4 linked regions of the Homo sapiens genome follow. The protein of the gene in region 1 interacts with the protein of each later gene in a pairwise test. Each region holds a gene or a part of one and is shown in the gene's direction. Other genes may lie near its edges.

Evidence for each region. The genes of interacting proteins can lie anywhere in the genome.
Region 2: the proteins of ARFGAP3 (region 1) and NDUFS5 interact in binary tests that used the Homo sapiens proteins (3 or more experiments, as listed by UniProt).
Region 3: the proteins of ARFGAP3 (region 1) and GJA1 interact in binary tests that used the Homo sapiens proteins (3 or more experiments, as listed by UniProt).
Region 4: the proteins of ARFGAP3 (region 1) and PEX1 interact in binary tests that used the Homo sapiens proteins (3 or more experiments, as listed by UniProt).

The regions. Positions count from the first base shown.
Region 1 is NC_000022.11:42,801,052-42,806,286, reverse strand, and holds part of ARFGAP3 (ADP-ribosylation factor GTPase-activating protein 3), read left to right. Parts: intron 1-5,235.
Region 2 is NC_000001.11:39,032,233-39,035,115, forward strand, and holds the end of NDUFS5 (NADH dehydrogenase [ubiquinone] iron-sulfur protein 5), read left to right. Parts: intron 1-2,159; coding exon 2,160-2,264; 3' UTR 2,265-2,383; downstream 2,384-2,883. UniProt on the Homo sapiens protein: Accessory subunit of the mitochondrial membrane respiratory chain NADH dehydrogenase (Complex I), that is believed not to be involved in catalysis. Complex I functions in the transfer of electrons from NADH to the respiratory chain.
Region 3 is NC_000006.12:121,434,331-121,438,445, forward strand, and holds the start of GJA1 (gap junction alpha-1 protein), read left to right. Parts: upstream 1-1,315; 5' UTR 1,316-1,502; intron 1,503-4,115. UniProt on the Homo sapiens protein: Gap junction protein that acts as a regulator of bladder capacity. A gap junction consists of a cluster of closely packed pairs of transmembrane channels, the connexons, through which materials of low MW diffuse from one cell to a neighboring cell.
Region 4 is NC_000007.14:92,522,021-92,525,520, reverse strand, and holds part of PEX1 (peroxisomal ATPase PEX1), read left to right. Parts: intron 1-3,275; coding exon 3,276-3,419; intron 3,420-3,500. UniProt on the Homo sapiens protein: Component of the PEX1-PEX6 AAA ATPase complex, a protein dislocase complex that mediates the ATP-dependent extraction of the PEX5 receptor from peroxisomal membranes, an essential step for PEX5 recycling.

The DNA.
Region 1 (5,235 bases):
TCTGCCAGGCCACAGTGGGGAGGAGGGGCCCTGTGGTTAACGTGAAAGGGGCAGCGTCCTCTGAGGTCATTTCAGGAAGCCATTTATCAGCAGGAGAGCCAAGGGGAGGGATGACTCTCAGGAGCCAGGCATTCCAAGCCTGGCACCCTCAGCATCCCTAGGCCTAGAGGAGCTGGCTGTGGCTCTAAGTGACCAACCTAGGCTATCACTTGGCCTTACAGCCACAGAGAACAGCTGTTTTCAGAGTCCAAAGAGAAACAGCTCGAGAGAGGTCTGAGTGTCGGACATTCTGGGTTGTGGTTTGGGGATGTTATAGAGACACACTGTGGCCCTCGGGGTGCAGTGGGCACTGCCAAGTTGCTGTGCTGCAGTGGAGGGAGAGTCCTAGCCAGGTGGCAGCAAGTGAGACAAGGGTTGTGTTGGCAGAGCAGCTGGCAGAGAGCCAGGCAGCCCAAGGAGCCAGAGGCCAGGGCCAGAGTGGACAAGCCCCGGCACATCCGCTGCCAGTGAGAGTGTGAGGGTGCCTGGGGGTGCGCAGCCAGGGCCACGGCTCCCCTGAGCCACTCTTTGGTCAGGAGCACACCCTGTGCCTCACCCCAGACTTGAGCAGAGGGGCCTCGTTTCCCTTGGGCAGTCAGTTACTTGCTGACTGGGCATTTCCTGGCAGTGAGTCTTGGTGGGGGCAGGTGAGGCTCATTGGCTTGTTCCATCTCCAAACTTTCAGTGTCCTGGCCTGTTGTCAGGGCAACTTCCTTTTGTGACCACCCCTGGCAGAGAGGCACTCCGGCCACCTTTGGAGACCTCCAGCAGCCCCACAGGTCAGTGCTGGGTCGCCTTGTAGGGGCCCTGGCACAGCCAGCAGCCGGTCCAGAGACCTGCATTGTTCAGTCCCCTGACTCCCTGCAATGGATGCCTTTGTAATTTAAATCAATAGAAGTTTTACTCTGAAGCACTGTTTGTTTTTTTAAAAAAATATTTGGAGATCAAATGAGAGCAGCCTTTCCAGTTACTGAACAAAAATAGTGGCAGCCTGTGTTTACCTTCCTGTTCCCTTTCAGAGAACAAAGATCCATTAAATTTTTTTGACCCTGTGTGGATGCCAAACCAACCCTGGTTCCTGGCACCTCGTGGTCATTGTAAGGTGCACCCTGGGGTGAGAGGCCACCCAGAAACTCACTCCCCTGCCCCCGCCGGGGTCTAACTGTGTTGCCCAGGCTGGTCTCAAACTCCGGGCCTTGAGCAAACCTCCCTCCTCAGCCTCCCAAGAAGCTGGAATTACAGGCACCAGCAACTTTTATTAAATATTTACTTTTTATTATTCAGAGCATATTTCAACAAAGAGCTTTGTGTGTTCTGCCTCCATAAAGCTTGTTTTATTTTATAAATTTTTTTTTCTTTTATTTTGTCTTTAATACTTTCCTATTGAAGTAAAAGCTTGTTTTAAGAAAACAAGTTCTTAAAACTTGTTCTGGGCAAGGCACGGTGACTCACACCTGTAATCCCAACACTTTGGGAGGCCGAGGTAGGCGGATCACCTGAGGTCGAGAGTTCAAGAGCAGCCTGGCTAACATGGTGAAACCCCATCCCTTCTAAAAATACAAAAATTAGGCCAGTCACAGTGGCTCACGCCTGTAATCCCAGTACTTTGGGAGGCCGAGGCGGGTGGATCACGAGGTCAAGAGATCGAGACCAGCCTGGCCAACATGGTGAAGCCCCATCTCTACTAAAAATACAAAAACTAGCTTGGCGTGGTGGCATGTGCCTGTAGTCCCAGCTACTCCGGAGGCTGAGGCAGGAGTATCGCTTGAACCTGGGAGGTGGGAGTTGCAGTGTGCCGAGATCACACCGCTGCACTCCAGCCTGGAGACAGAGCGAGACTCCATCTCAAAAAAAAAAAAAAAAAAAAAAAATTAGCTGGGTGTGGTGGTGGGCGCCTGTAATCCCAACCACTCAGGCGGCTGAGGCACAAGAATTGCTTGAACCTGGGACGGGGATGTTGCAGTGGCCGAGATCGCACCATTACACTCCAGCCTGGGCAATAGAATGAGATTCTGTTTCAAAAAAAAGAAAAGGAAAAAAGAAACTATTCTGCTTGGTGGCTCACCCCTATAATCCAGCACTTTGGGAGGCTGAGGAAGACGTATCGCTTGAGCTCAGGAGTTCCAGACCAGCCTGGGCAACATGGCAAAACCGTGTCTCTACAAAAAATACAAAAATTAGCCAGGCATGGTGGTGCACACCTGTAGTCCCAGCTACTCTGGAGGCTAAGGTGGGAGGATGACCTGAGCCCAGGAGGCAGAGGTTACAGTGATCTGAGATCGTGCCACTGCACTCCAGCCTGGGTGATAGAGCCAGGCCTTGTATCAAAAAAAAAAAAAAAAAAAAAGAGGAAGGAGGGAGGGAAGGAAGGAAGGAAGGAAACAATCAGTTCTGTGTTCCTTATCTTAATTTCCAAATGTGAAACGCTTCTGGTGAGGTAAGCTGCTTTCTGGGGGTGTTTCTAGCCCAGGAGACCTGCGGCCGTTCTTACGGGCACTCTCTTTCACTGTAGCTGAAGGATTGAGTGGGAAGCGCATGTAAGTGCCTGCAGCCAACCTGACCTGGCACAGCAACAGTCCCTGTGGTCACACCCATGGGACAGGGTCATTAGAGCTGGGGGACTGCCATCAGCTGGGCACTGCCTCAGGCAGGCGTGAGGCACTCAGACACCAGATGACAGAGTGGAGGCAGCTGTGTGAGAGCCAGGATACAACAAAAAGCTTAAAACCCAGCTGCCCCCTCAGCATGTTTCCTCCCAGAAAGCCAATTCTGATTGTTTGAATGAGAGCACGTCTGCATGGGAGTGCAGACACCTGCACCCCTTCCTTGTGTGCATCGTGGGGTCAAGTGGTAGGTTGTTTGTGAGGTCCCTTAACCACTGTCTCCTTTTCTCTTTGCTCCAGCCCAGGGTCTAGGAGTGTGACCTCGAAAGCACTGCCCTCAGTCTGCATCAGGCAGTCTGGTTTGGTTATTGCCATGTGTGCTTGTCAGACAGTATAGCTGTGCAGTGGCCCCAGGAGTTCCAGACCAGCCTGGACAACATAGTGGGACCCCCATCTCTACAAAAAATTTAAAAAATAAAAAAATTAGCTAGGTGCGATGGCTAATGCCTATAGTTCCAATTACTCGGAGGCTAAGGCAGGAGGATCACTTGAACCCAAAAGATTGAGGCTGCAGTCAGCTGTGATCACACCACTGTACTCCAGCCCGGGCAACAGAGGGAGTCCCTGTCTCAAACAAACAATGCCCAAACTTGTTCTTATAATCTTGGAAATACTTTTTCTCTTCATTTGTCTGCATGAAGCAGAGAAATTAATACGTGGTATTCTATTAAAAATTCTTATTTTGGGCCAGGTGTGGTGGCTCACGCCTGTAATCCCAGCACTTTGGGAGGCCGAGGCGGGCAGATCACGGGTCAGGAGATCGAGACCATCCTGGCTAACATGGTGAAACCACATCTCTACTAAAAATACAAAAAATTAGCCAGGCATGGTGGTGGGCGCCTGTAGTCCCAGCAACTCGGGAGGCTGAGGCAGGAGAATGGCGTGAACCTGGGAGGTGGAGCTTGCAGTGAGCCGAGATCGCACCACTGCACTCCAGCCTGGGCAACAGAGCAAGACTCCATCTCAAAAAAAAAAAAAAAATTCTTATTTTGGGCCAGGCGCGGTGGCTCTCGCCTGTAATCCCAGCACTTTGGGAGGCTGAGGCGGGTGGATCACAAGGTCAGGAGATTGAGACCATCCTGGCTAACACGGTGAAACCCCATCTCTACTAAAAAATACAAAAAAAAAAAAATTATCTGGGCGTGGTGGCGGGCACCTGTAGTCCCAGCTACTCCAGAGGCTGAGGCAGGAGAATGGCGTGAACCTGGGAGGCGGAGCTTGCAGTGAGCTAAGATCGCGCCACTACACTCCAGTCTGGGTGACACAGCGAGACTCTGTCTCAAAAAAAAAAAAAAATTGTTATTTTGAGGAGCCTGGGAGTTGTCCTGGAAACTTCCACCTCCCACGTCACACCATAGACCCATATGATCAGAATCTCTCCTGGGTGACTCCAGACCTGAAACGTGGCCACAACCCGCTGCTTGGTCCTCCTGCCTCCAGTCTTGGCTGCTGCTCACCCCTCTCCTCACTCTTCCCACAGGGATCTTTCAGAACACAGTCATCTGTGCTGAAAATCCTGCCCTCAGCTTGAAGCACAGCTCCCCACCCAATGCCCACCTCCAGGACCATGGTTCCCACTGGCCTTTCCAGCCTCATTTCTCGTGATTCACTGTTGTGGCTCACTCCAGCTGTGTTGAGCCTGTGGAGCCCCCAGCCCAGAATGCTCTTCTTCCCCATTCCCCCAGACAGCCCCGCAACCCGTATTTACCCTGGGGGCCTGGTTAGGCCCCCTTGCACCACTCTTGTGCCTTACACTGAGGGCAAGACCATGCGAAGACCGTCTCCCCCAGTGGACTGTCAGTTCTCATTTCTGTGCCCTTGGCGCCTGACAGCCTGGCAGAGGAAGCCCTCTGCAGGTGTTTGAGGATGAATGGGTGGAGGGGTGATGAATGACCCCAAGGAGCTTGCTGAGTCTGAGCACCTGCCCACCGGCCAACATAGGCTGGAACACGCCTCCCCCTACCTCCCATGTCCCATGGCCAGTGCCAGGCTGCAGGGGCGATGTGTTCCGCCTCCAGCACAAGCCTTAAGAGCTGTGCGCATGTTGCCATGTTTCTTTCCCTGTCATAGTAGGCAAGGAAGCTGGAATTAAGAGGTGGCCCCATGGGCTTGGACCGCAAGTGACTGTGATGCACAGAACCCCCTGCCCACCTGCACTGGGCACAGCAAACATCAGTTGTGGGTGGTTGTTAGCTCAGAGTCACCTGGCCTGTCCTGACCCATCCAGGGCATTTGCCCCAACCACAGACCACTGTGTAGCTCAGTGTCCCCTCTGTCTCAGAGAGGGGAGCAGCTGTCTTCTTCCTGGCTGCCCAAGCAGAAACCTGGGAAACATCCTTAATCCGCCTGCCTCTCAGCCTGCCTAGGCCAGTCAGTCAGTGTGCCTCTTGACACCTGCCTCCTGAGGACGCTCAGCCCGTTCCCTCCTGATCCCCACTGCCGCCTCCTCATGCTCAGGCACCGCCCCATGCACCTGGACCCCTGCAGCCACCTCCCAGCTGTCTACCTGAGTTTGCTCTGTGTCCCCTCCAGA
Region 2 (2,883 bases), on another chromosome or scaffold:
TAGCTAGTAAATGGTGGAGCTGGGATTTTATCCTGGCAAGGCTGGCTTCAATACCTATGCTTTTATCCAGAGTTACTGCTTTTAGCTCAGAGAAAGATTTGACATATGGTATTGTCATAGTTCAAAACCATGACTAGTCTTGTGTTGGGAGACTCTAAGATAAATGGTAAGAATGTAGTCTTTTAAAATGGTTAATGTTTATTTCAGGGTTTTTTCTACTGAAGTTATATCAACACTACTTCTTTAAGGTTAATGAGACGTTTAACTGAATATACTAATTTTTCGTATCTTTGTGAAAAGTTAGTCATTGGTTAAAAAAATTATGTCAGAAACTAGTCTAGGCACTAGGAATACAGTAAGCAAAACAGCAAAAAAAAAAAATCTCAGAGTCAGTGAGCTTATGCTATAGTGGGAGGAAGAGCAGAAAAATAACAAGTAAAAATACAGGTGATAATAAGTGCTGTGAGGAGAATAAACAGAAGGATAGAAAGTGCTAGGGGCAGGAGCTAGGTGGATGCTACTTTAAATAGTCAGAGAAGATCTCAGCAAAAGAAGACAGACCAGAGACTTAAAGAAAGTGAGCTATGTGGTTATGAGGGAAGAATGTTCCATGCAGAGGAAACAGCAAGTGCAAAGGTCCCTGAGCTGACTGGAGGGAGCTAGGGGAATATTAAGAGATGAAGTCACTGGAGTAGGCCTTGTAAACCATGATAAGGATTCATCTTTTTGTCTCAGTAAGATAGCCATTGCAGGGTTTTGAGCAGAGGAATAATGTGATCAGATTTAGTAAATTTTCTGTGTCACAGAATCCAGGGACCAGTTCATTGTTGTGGCTTTGACACACTTGTGTAACATAGTTTTGATTTGTTGAGAAGCAACCAATGCCCTGAGTAGAAGAGACAGAATTCAAGACTCAGCGGTGACTAGTGGCTGAGTAAGAATCAGGCCTTTACTTCCATATGGGGAAAAGAGAACTCATATTGGCTATTTCTGCTTCATTCATACCCATTGCATAGTCACCAGCAGCAGTGCCACTTCCACATAGAATATGTAAGTGCTTGCCGGGTGCGGTGGCTCACGCCTGTAATCCCAGCACTTTGGGAGGCCGAGGCTGGCGGATCACGAGGTCAGGAGATCGAGACCATCCTGGCTAACATGGTGAAACCCCATCTCTACTAAAAATACAAAAAATTAGCCGGGTGTGGTGGCGGGCGCCTGTAGTCCCAGCGACTCGGGAGGCTGAGGCAGGAGAATGGCGCGAACCCAGGAGGCGGAGGTTGCAGTGAGCTGAGATCGTGCCACTTTGTCACCCAGGCTGGAGTACAGTAGCGCGATCTCAACTCACTGCAACCTCCGCCTCCCGGGTTCAAGCGATTCTCCTGCCTCAGCCTCCTGAGTAGCTGGGACCACAGGCGCGCGCCACCACGCCTGGCTAATTTTTGTATTTTTAGTAGAGACAGAGTTTCACCATATTGGCCAGGCTGGTCTTGAACTCCTGACCTTGTGATTCGCCCGCCTCGGCCTCCCAAAGTGCTGGGATTACAGGCGTGAGCCACCACGGCCCAACTTTTATTTATTTATTTATTGAGACAAAGTCTCACTCTGTCACCCAGGTTGGAGTGCAGCAGTTCAATCTTGGCTCACTGCAACCTCCGCCTCCCAAGTTCAAGCAATTCTCCTGCCTCAGCCTCCCGAGTAGCTGGGATTACAGATGTGCACCACCATCCCTGGCTAATTTTTGTATTTTTAGTAGAAACAAGGTTTTACCTTGTTGGCCAGTCTGGTCTTAAACTCTTGACCTCAGTGATCCACCCGCCTCAGCCTCCCAAAGTGCTGGGATTAAACTTTTGATATTTTAAAAGATTTTAGTATCCACAAATATGCCTCTTAAAGGTTTTTGCAAATATCCATATTGCTATATATATTAAGAACATTTTAGTTGTTAGTTTTCAGAGAGGTTATGTATACTAAAAATTTGTTTGAAAGCTTGGGAAGTGATTTCATGTTAATTCTTTAAAGGCGGACTTCATTTCAGAGGCCCCGTAAGATGAAAGGCCTTTTGTAGTTTAAAAATGAAACCAAAATTGATCTGTTTTTCCAGTTCTCACTTTTTGGCACATATCTCCTCCCTCAGTTTAATTACCATTTTCCTTTGACAGATGAGACGTGCAGGTACCATCAGGAAGCAGCGGGATAAGCTGATAAAGGAAGGAAAGTACACCCCTCCACCTCACCACATTGGCAAGGGGGAGCCTCGGCCCTGAACAGAGCAGCTGCTGATGTCTGGAGGCTGATTTTCCTGTTCTCTGTTCTCCACTGGAAAGGTTGTTTACGACAAACCTCCTTGTCAAAGTGTGTAAAAATAAAGGATTGCTCCATCCTATTTGTTCTATTTTCTCTTGGATCATGACTTTCTTTTCTTTTCTTTTTTTGTTTTTGAGACAGAGTCTTGCTCTGTTGGCCAGGCTAGAGTGCATTGGCACGATCTTGGCTCACTGCAACCACCATCTCCCAGATTCAAGTGGTTCTCCTGCCTCAGCCTCCCAAGTAGCTGGGACTACAGGCATGCACCACCACACCCAGCTAATTTTTGTATTTTTGGTAGAGGTGGGGTTTCACCATGTTGGCTAGGCTGGTCTTGAACTCCTGACCTCATGTGGTCTACCCACATCGGCTTCCCAAAGTGCTGGGATTACAGGCACGAGCCACTGTGCCCAGCCATATCATGCCTTTCTATACTGAGATTATAACCTATTTTTTAAATTTGATTTTAAAAACAGTTGAAACTTTTAGACAGTTCCTAAAAAATTAGCAGCTATGGAATAATAACTAACATTTAATTAACAATGTGTACAAGATACTTTAAATATGTTAACTCATTTA
Region 3 (4,115 bases), on another chromosome or scaffold:
AAAAAAACCTGCAACATTTCAAAAGATGTTATATTAGTCATTTCAGTGAAAGTTTAATTAGGGAACGGTGTCTACCAGAATATATTTGGCATCCTTCTTTTTTCTGGTATTTGCCTGAGTGAGAAAAGTGTTAGGAATAGGAAGGCCAGATGAGTTTGCTTTCCCTCCAGAGAATACTGGCCAAGAAATTTCCTGTCCAACCTCAGGAGCATCACTGAAGCCTGTTTATGAGGAATTGTCCTACCACAACACTGTGTTATGGCATTTGGGAAGCCCTCAGAGGAGCTGCCTGCTCTAAGATTGAGGCCACATGACTCAGGCCATTATAAACCCTAATGCAGAGCCCTGAAGAGGGAGAGCATTTGGAAGGGGATAGGGAAGCACATAAAGATGATATGCTCAGCTTTACTGTCGTTGGGCAGAAAACTCTCTAGTGGGCTTGAGAGGGGGAACTGATTTTAAGGAGGGCTGAATAGTTTGGGAACCTACTTAATGCAACCATAGTCTGTATTTTTAAAATCCTCACATTTCACTACAGATTTGGGTTTTAGTGTCTTGGCATAAATAGGGCCTTAATATAAATTCTTAGTTTTCTGGAGACATGGTAGAGGTCAGATATCAAGATTTCATAGGCAAACAAAACATGCTATATATGTAAAAAATGTATATACACACACAGCCTTTTGCTAAACTGAAAGAAAGTAAAAATTCAAAGCAGTCAAGGGGTTGAAAGATGGATTGGGTATGGACTTTTCTTCATCTATGTCAATTTTTGAAATCTCTCTCCCATCTCCACCATTCCCTTTGTTAATTGTCCTTGCTTACATTTAAAGGAAGGGAATTAGATCATCAAACAGGTCACTCACACCTACCTCTAACTTCACACACCTTGGTCAATGTGAAACAAGCTTGAACTGGTTATATGCTTCCCCACCATTTTTATTTATTGTAAGCTACTTTAAAAATTTTAGACAATGTTGTAATAAAAATATACACCTTTTTCCCCCATTATCCCTGGTCTTCTGGTGAAGCAAGCAGTGTAATCAATGATTCTTATGTGTGAGGAGCAACTCCAAGTAGAGGCGTTCATGTCCCTAATGCTTTTTTATTTTTCCTCATCAGCAAATTTAAACTACAACTTTATCCTGATCCCACTGCTGCTCTTTGCCTCTTCTCCCCCCAGCCCTTCCACATTTACCAGCCTCCTCCCTACCTCCTCCCAGCCTTTCCCTTTGCCCTCCCCTTTCTTCTAGCCCCTCCTCCCAGTTGAGTCAGTGGCTTGAAACTTTTAAAAGCTCTGTGCTCCAAGTTACAAAAAAGCTTTTACGAGGTATCAGCACTTTTCTTTCATTAGGGGGAAGGCGTGAGGAAAGTACCAAACAGCAGCGGAGTTTTAAACTTTAAATAGACAGGTCTGAGTGCCTGAACTTGCCTTTTCATTTTACTTCATCCTCCAAGGAGTTCAATCACTTGGCGTGACTTCACTACTTTTAAGCAAAAGAGTAAGTTTTTAAAAAATGAGAACACGTTACCTATTAGTTTCTTTTTCTACAAGTAAAACTTTTCTAAAGTTTTAAAATGTGTTAAATGTAATTTTGAATTATGATACTGTAAATGGATTGATGGATTTGAAAGTGTTTCTATAGTTTTAAAGTTAAAATTTATTGTACCAAATATATATTTTGACTGTTAAAAAAGTTTCTATTAACATTGCAACAGGTGAAAAGGTTCAAACCTTTCCGATTAGAATAAAGGATTAGTTTACTGGATGTTTGGTTTTTCATTTTAGAGTATCATTTTATTTTGTTTTTTTTTTGTAATCAGTAATAGTCTAGGTGCTATCATTTGTTGGGTGGGGGGGGGGCGGTTAGGCGCCTGGGTTGGGGGATTTGACTGACTACATCGGAAAAATCAAAGTGCAAATTTGCTTAGCGTGCTTCCTATAGTATTCTACACTTCATAGAATAAAGTGCTTTTTTCATATGGAAATCTTGATTGATGTTCTATAGCTTTGCAAAGCCAACTTCTTTTGTGACGAAGTGCTTTGTTAAAACATCGTGGTTACTTGACTTCCACGTGGTTCCTTCCTAGAATTTTCCCCATTAAACAAAAAGGTATAAAATTCAAGAGTATTAATATTATGCTTTAAAAATCAACAGTAAATTGTTACTTTGTGTTAGCAACCGCTATGGAAAGATTTGAGACCCTCAGGAGAGACAGCTTTTACTCGACCACGTTGGCAGTTTAGGAGATGAAATCTCTTGAATGGGTGGTGGCTAGTTACAGAGCATTAGAGATCAGACGTTTAAAAAAGAGTGTATGCCAGGGTACTTTTCCAAAACCGTCTCCTAAAACGGGAGCTCCTAGAAAGAGCAGGAAAAAAACTTTCTTAAACAGCGCTTTGGGAGCTCCCCCCGCCAACACCCGCCGCCCCGCACCTTCCCTCTGCTCGAACCTGTAACAGAATTCAGAACTCTGGGGCAGTTCTTTGGAGTTGGAGCTCCTAGGGCAAAGATAACGCTAATGCGTTGTTTAAAAGGGTTCAATTTTTAAAATACTTTTATTGGTAACACCCATTCTGTTCATCAGAAATGCAGCCATGCATTTTTGTGCCCGGTAAAGATTTTCTGTTCTGTGTAAATCTACAAACTAAAATAATTAGTTTAGATTCTTGACGTGACCCTGCAGTGGAAGTATTTGCACCAGTGAATGCTGAAAAGCAAATAAAAATGAAAGCTTTGCGGAGGCCGTGGGCCGGACGGGCGCGGGGCGCCTCCTGCCATCTTAGCGTCTGCCGGGATCCTTCCCGCGCCTTCGCTGCCCGAACCAGCTCGGTCTTGGGACGTTTCCCCCAAATCCTCACAAGTCAAATCGAACTCAGGTCCGAGTTCGTCACTGCAAAGGAACCCGGGGTGCGGGGTGGGAGGGATAGGAGGAGAGATGGGCTGGGTGCCAAATGGTAGAACAAATGGTTGATTTAATTAAAGTTGTCAATCTAATTTCCCATCCCTCTCACACCAGCCCTTTTTTTTTTTCTTTTTCTTTTTTCCTCTTAAACTTGCTGAATCCCACTATCTCCGCGTTGGTAAGAAAACCTGAATACCTTGGGAATTGTGCTTAAATTGCACTTGCAACTCCCCTGGAAGTTCCTGAAACTTCCCGAGAATGAGGCGGGGCGGCTCAAGGGGAAAGGGCAGGGAGGAGAGACCCTCGGGAAGCTGATGACGCGTCCGGGGCAAGTCAGCCTGTTTCCGAGACGCGCGCCTCACGGTCGTAGCAGCGCTGCGCCCACCCTGCCCCTTTAGTGACCCAGCCAGCCTTTGCTGGGGGTTTCTGATAACGCTCATCGATAAGCTCTCCTTGCTCCCAAAAGGCGTGCTTCTCTTTCTCTCCAGGTACAAAGTAGGGGTGGGAAGGGGAGAGCTACACAATGTTGTAAAAAGAAGCGTGGCTTTATTTGGAAGACGGTTGAATTTCTTTTGCTTCCTCGACCCAGTTAGTAACGACAAGAAAGATACTGAATATCGCCCTCCGAAAATCGGGCGCATTTGAACTCGGTGAAAAGTGTCCCTGTGAGGAAGCCTAATGTTTACTTTTGTGCAAGGATAACTGGAAATTAAAGCGTCTAGTAATGCAGAGATTTCATTAAGCGAGCGCTCCCCTCCCCCCCGCGCCAGGAATGAAATAAGCCAGTTAGACAGAAAACACTTTTGGGAGAAGACTAATTACTTCTGGGTAGGCCGAATTGACTGGAAATTATACCAAGCAAAGGCAGTACATTCCATTCCGTCCTGGCGATGTTGATTCTATATTATTAGAACATTGTTCCCCCAGTGTGGGGGTGCTTTGTACTTCCCAAAGTCAGGGTAGACTGGTTACCTGGGAAAATGCAGTGTTAGTGCTTTGCTCCTACTTTCTTCACTGTTTAAACATGTTCCACATTTTTCTAATGCCTTCTGAGGGTTCTCAACCCAGCCACTGAGTTCCTCACCCTTGGCGACTGTGATACCAACAATGCTGTCACCCTCCTTGGGAAACATGGTTGCAAAGATGCTCCGCAGGAGGCAGATAAAAGGCTGTGCTTTCAGATACTGAAGGTTGCTTTGTTACTTAGA
Region 4 (3,500 bases), on another chromosome or scaffold:
TTGAGAACCACCGCTTCAACTAAGTTATCTTCTCTGTACTCAGAACTTGATGTGATTGCAGCAGGGGGAGAGGATTCATATACACAGTGAATGCAAACGAACCTAAATCACCATTCGGATATGGCCACACAATTTTCATTTCCCTTGTGTTAGCAAGAGATACCCTAGGCTTTGGACCTGATTATTCCTAAGGCATTCTGATGTATGGTTTTACCTGCAGATTTCCTGGTAATACTGATACCTCAGTTTGGGTCAAAGAAGGTCAATTAATTGATTGATTTGATTTGACTCCTGGAAAAGACGCTCCTTTCTAGCTGTCTCTTTCTTCTCTTTACCTGAATAGCCAGGGCTCTGTGGTTCAAGTGAAGTATTTTGACATAAAAATTAACTTAGAACATTGGTCTGCAGAGTTTGCTCAATATAACTGAGCACATATTGTGGCTTTATGGAGCTGGTTACTACTTTTTGACCAAATAAATAATTAGAAGTATTTTTCCTCCTCAATAAGGTTCATTTTTCCTTTTTTCAGTGAGCTGGTAGAGTTTCCTTTTTTGATATTTCAGGGCATCTTTCATATTTCCATCTCTTAAGTTTCTTCATATGAAGTAGAATTTATCTGGATTATGTATTGCTGACTCTGATGAAAACCCATAGAAAGCATCTGGGGCTTGATCACCTTCATTCTTGTAATAGCTCACACGGTTACAGCTGATATGGTAACTTAAGACTTTTGATTCCAAATCTAGGCAAAATACACTCAGTTGAAAGAATTTGTCAGCCAGAACAGTTGGACTGTTCTGTGAAAATTGTGAGAAAAATTACACAACTAAGTGATACATGATGATGGCTTTCTTAAATATAAAATTGTAATAACATGGTTAATTTCCAGTACGTTATATTGTCCCAGAAGTGGCTCCAACATTGTTTGAAATTTGTCTCATTTAAAGAAACATAAGCTGGCTATGGTGGCTCACGCCTGTAATCCCAGCACTTTGGGAGGCTGAGGCAGGCAGATCACCTGAGGTCAGGAGTTCGAGACCAGCCTGGCCAACATGGTAAAACCCCATCTCTACTAAAAATACAAAAATTAGCCGGGCATTTGGTGGGGGCCTGTAATCCCAGCTACTTGGGAGGCTGAGGCAGGAGAATTGCTTGAATCTGGGAGGTGGAGGTTGCAGTGAGCCGAGATTGTGCCACTGCCCTCCAGCCTGGGTGACAGAGTGAGTCTCCGTCTCAAGAAAAAAAAAAAAAAAAGCAAGAAACATAAAGACTGGGCATGTTGGCTCATGCCTGTAATCCCAGCACTTTGAGAGACTGAGGTGGGAAGATCACTTGAGCCCAGGAGGTTAAGGCTGCAGTGAGCCGTGATTTTGCCACTGTACTCGAGCCTGGGCAACACAGTGAGATCCTGTCTCAGGAAAAAAAAAATTGCATGTAAATGAATGAATTTGATATTTAATATTTTAAATTATGAAAACTGTTCTGTAGAGATGTAGATCTTGCCATGTTGCCCAGGCTGGCTTTGAACTTCTGGGCTCAAACAATCCTCCTGTCTCAGTCTCCCAAAGTATAAAGATTACACATGTGAGCCACTGCACCTGGCCTAATATTTTTAACTTAATGAATTTATTTTGATATAAATAAATTAATAACACTGAAGCTTCCTGATATAATAAGTCTTTTTGTGTGTGTGACGGGTTCTCACTCTGTTGCCCAGACTGGAGTGTAATGGCACTATCATGGCTCACTGTAGCCTCAACCTCCCTGACTCAAGTGATCCTCCCACCTCGGCTTCCTGAGTAGATGGGACCACAGGCGTATGCCACCACACCTGGCTGATTTTTAAAATTTATTATTGATACATATTAATAAAATTATTTTTATTTTAAAAATGATATATGTGGCTGGGCATGGTGGCTCATGCCTGTAATCCCGACAGTTTGGGAGGCCGAGGTGGGAGGATCACTTGAGACCAGGAGCTTAAGACCAGCCTAAGCAACATAGTGAGATCCCATCTCTATAGAAAAAAAAAATGGCTAGGTGTGGTGGTGTATGCCTATATTCCCAGCTACTCAGGAGACTGAGGTGAGAGGATTGCTAGAGCCCAGGAGTTTCAAGTTACAGTGACCTATGATTGTGCCAGTGCACTCCAGCCTGGGCAACAGAGCAAAATCCTGTCTCAAAAAAAAAAAAAGTTCGAAAATGCTTATGATGCAATATAAGTAGTGGAAAAGGATATTAAATTGTGCCTATATGAACACAACTATATGAAAAACTTGCACATAGAGAAAAGGATTAACAAGAAATAGACCAAATTGTTCACATGGTTGTCTTGTTTGTGGAGAGAATATCAGTAGTTCATTTGTTTCCTTCCAAGTTTATATGTTTTCCGAGGTCTCTATAATGAGTTTGTAATTGTTTAATCATAGAAAACCCTTTTTTGGTCCTTGGCCACAAACTTACATGTTTTAATGTAATTGCTTTTTTAATGAGAATAAATGTTATATTTTGCTTTTTTAAAACCTATATTCCCATAGTTATATGAGCCCTTACAATTATTAAGAGGCTGCATAATATAACGTTTCTGGAAGGGTACAGAAGAAACAGCAGTAATTACCTCTGAGAACAGAGACATGGCTTCACATTTTACCCTTTTGTACGTTTTGTGCTTTTGCCACATGCATTTATTATTCTTCCAATAAATAAGTAAATAAATATGGATTGTATACTCCATCTGGTTGGTGTTTCATAATTCTAAAATTATATTGCTACATTTTTAAAGATGATATGTGTTTCTACTTATTAACGTATATGTTAAAATAGTAAATTTATATCTTATTTAATAATTTCCCTATTGATAGACATTTAAGACAGTCTCAAGTGTTCACTATCATAGAAAATACTGCACAGATAGCTTTTGCTATAGTTTCTTTTTTCTTTGAATCGTTAATTGGGAATAAATGCTCAAATAGTTATATGTGGCTCAACTGCTATTTAAGTTTATTGACTGACTGCTGCCATTTTGAATTCTGAAGGGGTTGATTAAATTTATAATGCTGCCATAAGAATATAAGGGTATTGGCTTCATTAGCATCCACCAGCATTGGGTGTTGGAAATGATTATAGATTTTTAAATGCTACAACAAATGTAGATAACAGAGAACTATCTATAGAACTCTTTTTGGACATGTGAATTGTAATAATAGTTTATTTTCATGTGAATCCAGAAAAATGTATACGAAAACCTTTTTTCCTCTCATTTCTTATATGAATAGAATCAAGCTATAGAAGTGGTCTGGAGTCACCAGCCTGCATTCTTGAGCTGGGTGGAAGGCAGGCATTTTAGTGATCAAGGTGAAAATGTGGCTGAAATTAACAGACAAGTTGGTCAAAAACTTGGACTCTCAAATGGGGGACAGGTAAGCACATGTGATGGCAATAACTTTCTTCTAATATCACATAATATAGCAATAGAAATAAAATTAAAAGTTTAGATTTTT